Homo sapiens: one gene and its partner. The protein of the gene in region 2 purifies or fractionates together with the protein of the main gene of each other region. This does not show direct contact. Each region holds a gene or a part of one and is shown on either strand. Other genes may lie near its edges.

The links. Proteins that work in one complex are often made in the same cells at the same time.
Region 1: the proteins of SLC12A5 (region 2) and SUGT1 purify together in Homo sapiens (affinity purification with mass spectrometry; one large-scale study listed by BioGRID and IntAct). This does not show direct contact.

Annotation. Positions count from the first base shown.
Region 1 is NC_000013.11:52,680,223-52,683,876, forward strand, and holds part of SUGT1 (protein SGT1 homolog), read left to right. Parts: intron 1-3,654. UniProt on the Homo sapiens protein: May play a role in ubiquitination and subsequent proteasomal degradation of target proteins.
Region 2 is NC_000020.11:46,039,168-46,042,821, forward strand, and holds part of SLC12A5 (solute carrier family 12 member 5), read left to right. Parts: intron 1-1,205; coding exon 1,206-1,447; intron 1,448-2,161; coding exon 2,162-2,373; intron 2,374-3,654. UniProt on the Homo sapiens protein: Mediates electroneutral potassium-chloride cotransport in mature neurons and is required for neuronal Cl(-) homeostasis.

The sequences.
Region 1 (3,654 bases), on a different chromosome or scaffold from region 2:
TAATGTGAGACCAAATTGCGTGTACTATAGCTGGGAGAACTTTTTGAATAAGGTCTGTCTGAACGTTTCTTTTTGCTCTAAGAGTAATTTTTGAGGAAGTTGAAAACTTATGGAAGAGATGAGAAACAAGTGGTTTATCTTAAATAGGTATTTTTTATCAGTGAGTTAGATTGATATGGAGTCATCTCACTTGGATTTATCCCAGTAGCTGAGTGAACTTCTGTTGTTTCCCTTCTAGACTCATATGTAGCCTCAGTGTTAGAGATGAAGAATATAGATACGAAACTTTTCAGAATAGTGTTTGCAAGTAGAAGGTGCACGTTATTCATTGGTTTAACAACTCTCTTGATTAAGAAAATTCAGGCTTTTTGTCAGGGCAGCATAAATACCTAAATTAGACCTCAAAATTTTAGTAATAATTCGTCATTGTATATTTAGCTTGCAGTTGTAATCATGTGACTTTTATTAATACCAGTAGCTCTGGAAATATGACTCTTTTAAGACATATTTACAGTAGAAAGTTAAAATTAGTATTTTAATTTAATATTTAGTTAATGTGGTTGAGGCTTAGGTATTTCACACTTAAGAAATCTGTGGTAATTGGTCATGATTGTGCTTTTCACAGTTTATTTATTTAGAGACAAGGTCTCACTCTGTTGCCCAGGCTTGAGTACAGTGGCGTGATCTCGGCTCACTGCAGCCTCTGTCTGCCGGGCTCAAGTGATTTTCCTACCTCAGCCTCTGCAGTAGCTGGGACTATAGACATGCACCACCACGCCTGGCTACTTTATTTCTTGTAGAGGTGGGGTTGCGCCACGTTGCCCAGGCTGGTCTCGAACTCCTGGCTTCAAGCAATCTAGCCGCCTCAGCCTCCCAAAGTGCTGGGATTACAGGCGTGAGGCACCTCAACCAGCCTCACTATTGATTAAAAAATTTTTTTTCATCACTTTTGGGAGACTGAGGTGGGAGGATCACTTGAGCTAAAGATCTTGAGATTAGCCTGGGCAACATAGAGAGACCCTATCTCTACAAAAAAAAAAAAAAAATTAGCTAGGCCTGGTGGCATGTGTCTGTGGTCTTAGCTACTTGGGAAGGTGAGGTGGGAGGATCTCTTGAGCCTGGGTGGTCAAGGTTGCAGTGAGCTGTTTTTTTGTGCCACTGAACTACAGCCTGGGCAACAGAGACCCTGTCTCAAAAAAAAAAAAAAAGTCTTCATTAAACTTTTAGTTTTGAGATAATTGTAGATTGACATGCAATCCTAAGAAATGAGATTCTTTGTACCTTTTACAAAGTTTCCATTGATGGAAACATTTTGTCAAAACTATGCTACAACATCACAACCATGATACTGACAGTTAAGATAGGGAACCTTTAATCCCAGTGCTTTGGGAGTCTGAGGCCACAGGATCCCTTGAGGCTAGACCAGCCTGGACAATATGGTAAGTTCTGGTCTCTACAAGAAATTTAAAAGCTACCTTGGCATGATGTTGTGCCCCTGTCAGCTCAGGCGTCTGCGGCAAGAGTATTGTTTGAGCCCAGGAGTTCAAGGTTGCAGTGAGCTATGATCGTGCCACTACACTTAGCTTGGGCAGCAAAGTGAGACCCTATCTCTTTAAAAAAAAAAAAAAGAGAGAGAGAGAGATAGAACATTTTCATGGATTCCAAGGATCCCTTATGTTGCTATCTTATGGCCATACTAACCCCACCCCCACCCTTCCATGATCCCTGATGATCACAAATCTGGCAATCTTTGTCAGATATGTAGTTTACACATATTTTCTCCCAGTATGTAGTTTTCATTTTCTTAATAGGGTCTTTCATAGAACCAAAATATTTCATTTTGATTAAGTCTAATTTACCGCTTTTTATGGATCATGCTTTTAGTTTCAGGTCTTATTAACTCTTTGCCTAGTCCTAGATCTCAAAGACTCTCTCCTATTTAAAAAATAAATAAAAGTAATATTGTTTTACATATTACATTTATTTTTTATTTAGAGACAGGGTCTCATTCTGTCACCCAGGCTGAAGTACAGTGGCACAGTCACAGTTCACTGTAACCTCAAAGTCCTGGGCTCAAGTGATCCTTATGCCTCAGCCTCCCAAGTAGATGGGACTACACATCCATGCTGCCATGCCTGGCTAATTTTTAAAATTTTTTGTAGAGGTGGGGGTGTCTCCGTATTGCTTAGGGTGGTCTCGAACTTCTGACCTCAAGCAGTCCTTCGGCCTTGGCTTCCTGAAGTGCTAGAGTTACAGGCGTGAGCCACAGCACCTGGCCTACATATTACATTTAAGTCTGTGATGCATTTTGAATTTTTATGTCAAGTGTGAGATTTAACTTGAGGTTCCTTTTTGTGGGGTGGATAGTATGTTCGGGTGTTCTGGCACCTATCTTTTCTCATTGAATTGCTTTTGCACCTTTCTTAAAAATCAGTTGAGCGTATTTGTGTGAGTCTATTTCTAAGTTCCCCACTGTGTTAGATTGAGCTGTATGTGATCTATATGTATGTTCCTCTGTCAGTCCCACTGTCTTAAGCTGTAGCTGTTTAAGTCTGAAATTGGGCAGACTCATTCCTCCTACTTTATCCTTTATTTTCACAATTGTTTTTAGATATTCTAACTCATTTGTCTTTCCATGTAAATTTTAGAATAAAGTGATTATATATAATTTTGGTGTTCATTACTAGAATCTAGACATACAGTTAATTTTATGTTTATCTTGTATTCTGTGACATTGCTGGACTCAGTTCTAGGAGTATTTTTGGATAGATTGTCATTTTTTTAATGTGGACAATCATCTTCAAATATGGAGGTTTTATTTATCTGCAGATACGGAGAGTTTTATTTCTCCCTTTTCTATCTGTATGCCTTTTATCTCCTTTTCTTGCTATATTTCACTGGCTGCAACTTCCGCACTGTGTTGAATAAGAGTAGTGAGAGTGGACATCCTTGCCTTGTTTCCCATTTTAAGGGAAAAGTATCTGTTGTTTCATCATTAAGTATAATGTTAACTGTAAATTTTTGGTAGATGATCTTTGTCAAGTTATGAAAGTTCTGTTGTATTCCTATTTTTCTGAAATTTTTTTATCATTAACTTTCAATATTAACTTTTTGTCAGATGTTTTGTCTGTGTTGATTGATAGGATTATATGATTTTTCTTCCTTAGCCTGTTAATATGGTGATTTTATATGATTAATATGATTGATTTTCAAGTATTGAGACAGTCTTGCATGAGCCCTACTTTGTCATATAGTGTATCTCTTAATTCTATCTTCTAATGTTTTGTTATGGGTTATTGTGTCTATATTCATGAGGAATATGAGTCTAATTTTCTTTTTGTGCTATCTTTGGTTTGGCATCAGAGTAATACTTCATAAAATGAATTAGGAAGCATTGCATCCTCTTCTGTTTTTTAGAAGATATTGTGTATAATTGGTGTTAACTTTTCTTAAGTATTTGGTAGAACTCACCAGTGAAACGGTCTGGGCCTGGAGATTTCTTTATTAGGAGATTTACAGTTATGAATTTAGTTAACCTAAAAGTTTTTATAGGACTGTTCCAATTATCTATTTCATATGGGTGACTTGTGGTTTGTTTCTGATAAATTTATCCATTTTGTCCAAGTTGTCAGTGTTTGTATAGTCCCTTATTCT
Region 2 (3,654 bases):
TATTCTCTTTGTATATATTATTTGCAGTGAAAATAACTCTTGGAAGAATGTAAACGTTAATATTTAGCATGGGAATTTTAGAAAATACAGATGTGCATAAAGAATAGATTATCCACATTTTTTACGATTCAGGGAAAACTACTGACAACATTTTGATGTACTTATGAAAACACATACAGACGTATACTAATATACGTATATATCTTCACATACACATTTATAAAAATGAGATAATGAGACATATTCTTTTTCAAAAACCTGATTGTGTTCACCTAATGTACCATGGATAGCTTTTAAAGTCAGTCCATATAAATCTATGTCATCTGGCCGGGCACAGTGGCTCATGCCTGTAATCCCAGAACTTTGGGAGGCCGAGGCAGTTGGATCACCTGAGGTCAGGAGTTCGAGACCAGCCTGACTGATACGGTGAAACCCCGTCTCTACTAAAAATACAAAAATTAGCCAGGGGTGGTGGTGGGCACCTCTAATCCCAGCTACTCGGGAGGCTGAGGCAGGAGAATCACTTGAACCCAGGAGGTGGAGGTTGCAGTGAGCCAAGATCGTGCCACTGCACTCCAGCCTGGGCAACAAGAACAAAACTTTATTTCAAAAAAAAAACAAAAAAACCACCACCACAATAAAAAACCAACAACAACAATAAAAAACCAACTACATCATCTTTTTTAATAGCTCCATAGTCTGTGGGGATATCATGATTTATTCACCCAACCTCGAGTGATGAACATTTATTTCCACCTTTCTATTAGAAATTATTAAAATGATAAATAATTATTAAGAATTATAATTAACAAAAATAACAGAAGTAATTGCTTCCAGCATCCTTGCAATGTCATTTTTTAAAAAATGTATTTTTATTTGTTTTTGAGATGGGGTCACATTATGTTGCCTAGGCTGGTATTGAAATCCTGGCTTCAAGTGATCCTCCCACCTTGGCCTCTCAAAACACTGGGATCACAGGTGTGAGCCACCATGCCTGGCCTTATAATGTCATTTTTAAATGGCTGCATCATAGTCCTTGCAGGACAGGCCATGCCTTCTTTAGCGATTCTCCTATTACTGGATGTCTTTTCCAGTCTGGTACCACTGTGACTGTGCTGTGATGAGCATCTTTTTTCCTAAAGCGCTGCATGTAGTGCAAAGGGCTGCTGACTTAGGTATCTGTTCTTCCTGCCCCTTTCCCACAGGCTTACCTCTTCCCAGCCATGGCCATCTTCAAGGCAGAAGATGCCAGTGGGGAGGCAGCAGCCATGCTGAACAACATGCGTGTTTACGGCACCTGTGTGCTCACCTGCATGGCCACTGTGGTGTTTGTGGGTGTCAAGTATGTCAACAAGTTTGCCCTTGTCTTCCTGGGTTGTGTCATCCTCTCCATCCTGGCCATCTATGCTGGGGTCATCAAGTCTGCCTTCGACCCACCCAACTTCCCGTGAGTGCTGCTGCTCTGAGCCCAAGGAATCGTCCTCCTACCTCCCTGGCCCTGTTTCAGAGTCTCTGCCAAACTCCCCCTCCCTGCCCCTCAGAATCTCAGAGTGGTGTGGGTTGGGAGTAGCTTCCCTTGGGAGGGAAAATCTCTCTTAGTTTGGGGGCAATCTCTTCAGAGTGAGGTAACTTTTCTGGAGGAGGGAACAATTTACCTTGTAAGAGTCAACTTCTTGCTGGTAGGGTGGACTTAGGAAGAATTAAGTGGGAATGAGTTCCAAAGCAATGAATGCTGTCTGTGGTAGGGAAACCTTTCCTGGGTGGGGACAACCTCCTGGAATGGGACAATCTCCTAGTGTTGGACAACTCCTCCAGGATGGGAAAAGACACAGAAGTCTACAGGGTCCAGGGACTCAGATCCAAGTCCACTCCATCCACTGCTCAGAGGTGGAGGGCGGCCCCCGAGACCGCTGTCCACGGTGCTGAAACACAGCATTGCACTAATGCGGTGCTTCTCCACCTTGGCTGCTTATTAGAATCACTTGGGGAGCTTAAGAAAAAAAAAAAAAAGCCAATGGCCAGGCTTCATTTAAATTAAACGAGGAACTCTGGATATGGGGACCTGGCGTCCGTGTGTTTAAAAGGTCTCCCGGTGGCTGTATTGTGCAGCGAGGGCAAGGTTATGTGGCTCCCCACCTTCCTCCCTTGTTTCTCTCCCTAGGATCTGCCTCCTGGGTAACCGCACGCTGTCTCGCCATGGCTTTGATGTCTGTGCCAAGCTGGCTTGGGAAGGAAATGAGACGGTGACCACACGGCTATGGGGCCTTTTCTGCTCCTCTCGCTTCCTCAACGCCACCTGTGATGAATACTTCACCCGAAACAATGTCACAGAGATCCAGGGCATCCCTGGTGCTGCCAGTGGCCTCATCAAAGGTCTGCGGAGGGACAAGGGCTGGCATCCAGGGAACGCTGCAGGGATTGTAGGTTAAGCGGTCAGGATTAAGGGGCCCTCCTTGGGATTCAGCTAAATTCAATCAGCTTTAATTGAGCACCTACTCTGAGTTACATTCTGTCCTTGGCATCAGGGAGGAGTAAGGTGAAAAGGAGACAAGTATCTCACCGCTAGTAGGAAAAGAAGTCATCAACGTAACAGGTGGTCACTGAGCACCTACAGAGTGCCCAGCATTGTGCTGAGTGCTAGGAACACAAAATAAATAAGCCACAGTTCCTGGCCTCAAGGAGACTAATGGCAGAAATAGATGTAATAGCAAATACATTATGCCATATGTAGATGTGCATTCAATGCACAGAGAATGCCCGGGGGGGGAGAGTTCATGTGTATAAGATGGCAATAGGCTTCCTGGACTCAACTGAGGAGGGTTTTGAAGGACAAATGAAAGATCTTCAATTCTATGAGAGGAGTAAGGAAATTGCAACCAGAAGAACAGCTTGCCTAAAAGCAGGCAGAGGCAGAAGAGTTTATTGTGTCTTTCCAATCACAAGTAATTTGGTATGACTGGGGCATAAAGAGCAAAATAAGGTGGAGAAAGAAGCGATGTAGGAGAGGCTGGCATGAGCCAGATCATGGCAGGCCTTGGAAGCCATTTTGGAGAGTTGGGACCACATTCTGAAGGCAATGAGGAGCCACCAAGGGGTTTTGGGAAAGGGAGGGACGTGGTCAGATCTCCATTTTTTGAAGGTTCATTCTGGCTGCTAATGTGGATGGGTTAAAGGGGTGAGAGGAGAGAGGCAGGGGGCCCAGGAAGGGGCTGAGGCTATGAGTCCAGGAGAGAGAGATGGTGGTTTTCTGAGTGAGAGTGATGGAATGATGTCTGTGGGAATTACTGCAGTGCTTCTCAACCAGGGCTGTTTTGCCACCCAGTAAACATTTGGCTGTGTCTGCAGACGTTTTTGGTTGTCAAAACTGGAGGGGTGTACCTGGCATCTAGTAGGTAGAGGCCACGATGCTGCTAAACATCCTACAATGCTATAGGACAGTCCTCCACAGCAAAGAATTATCTGGCCGGGAGTGTCACTAGTGCCACAGTGGAGAGACCTTGGAATGGAGAGAAGGGGCATATTTAAGAAATATTAAGGAGGGGTTAAAGGACAGAAGTTGGAGGTGGTATTGAAGTTGGGGAAGGGGAGAGGGAGCAGTGTAGGGCAGGGTGTCAGAATTGATGATGGTGCCATTTACTGAAATATGGGATGCAG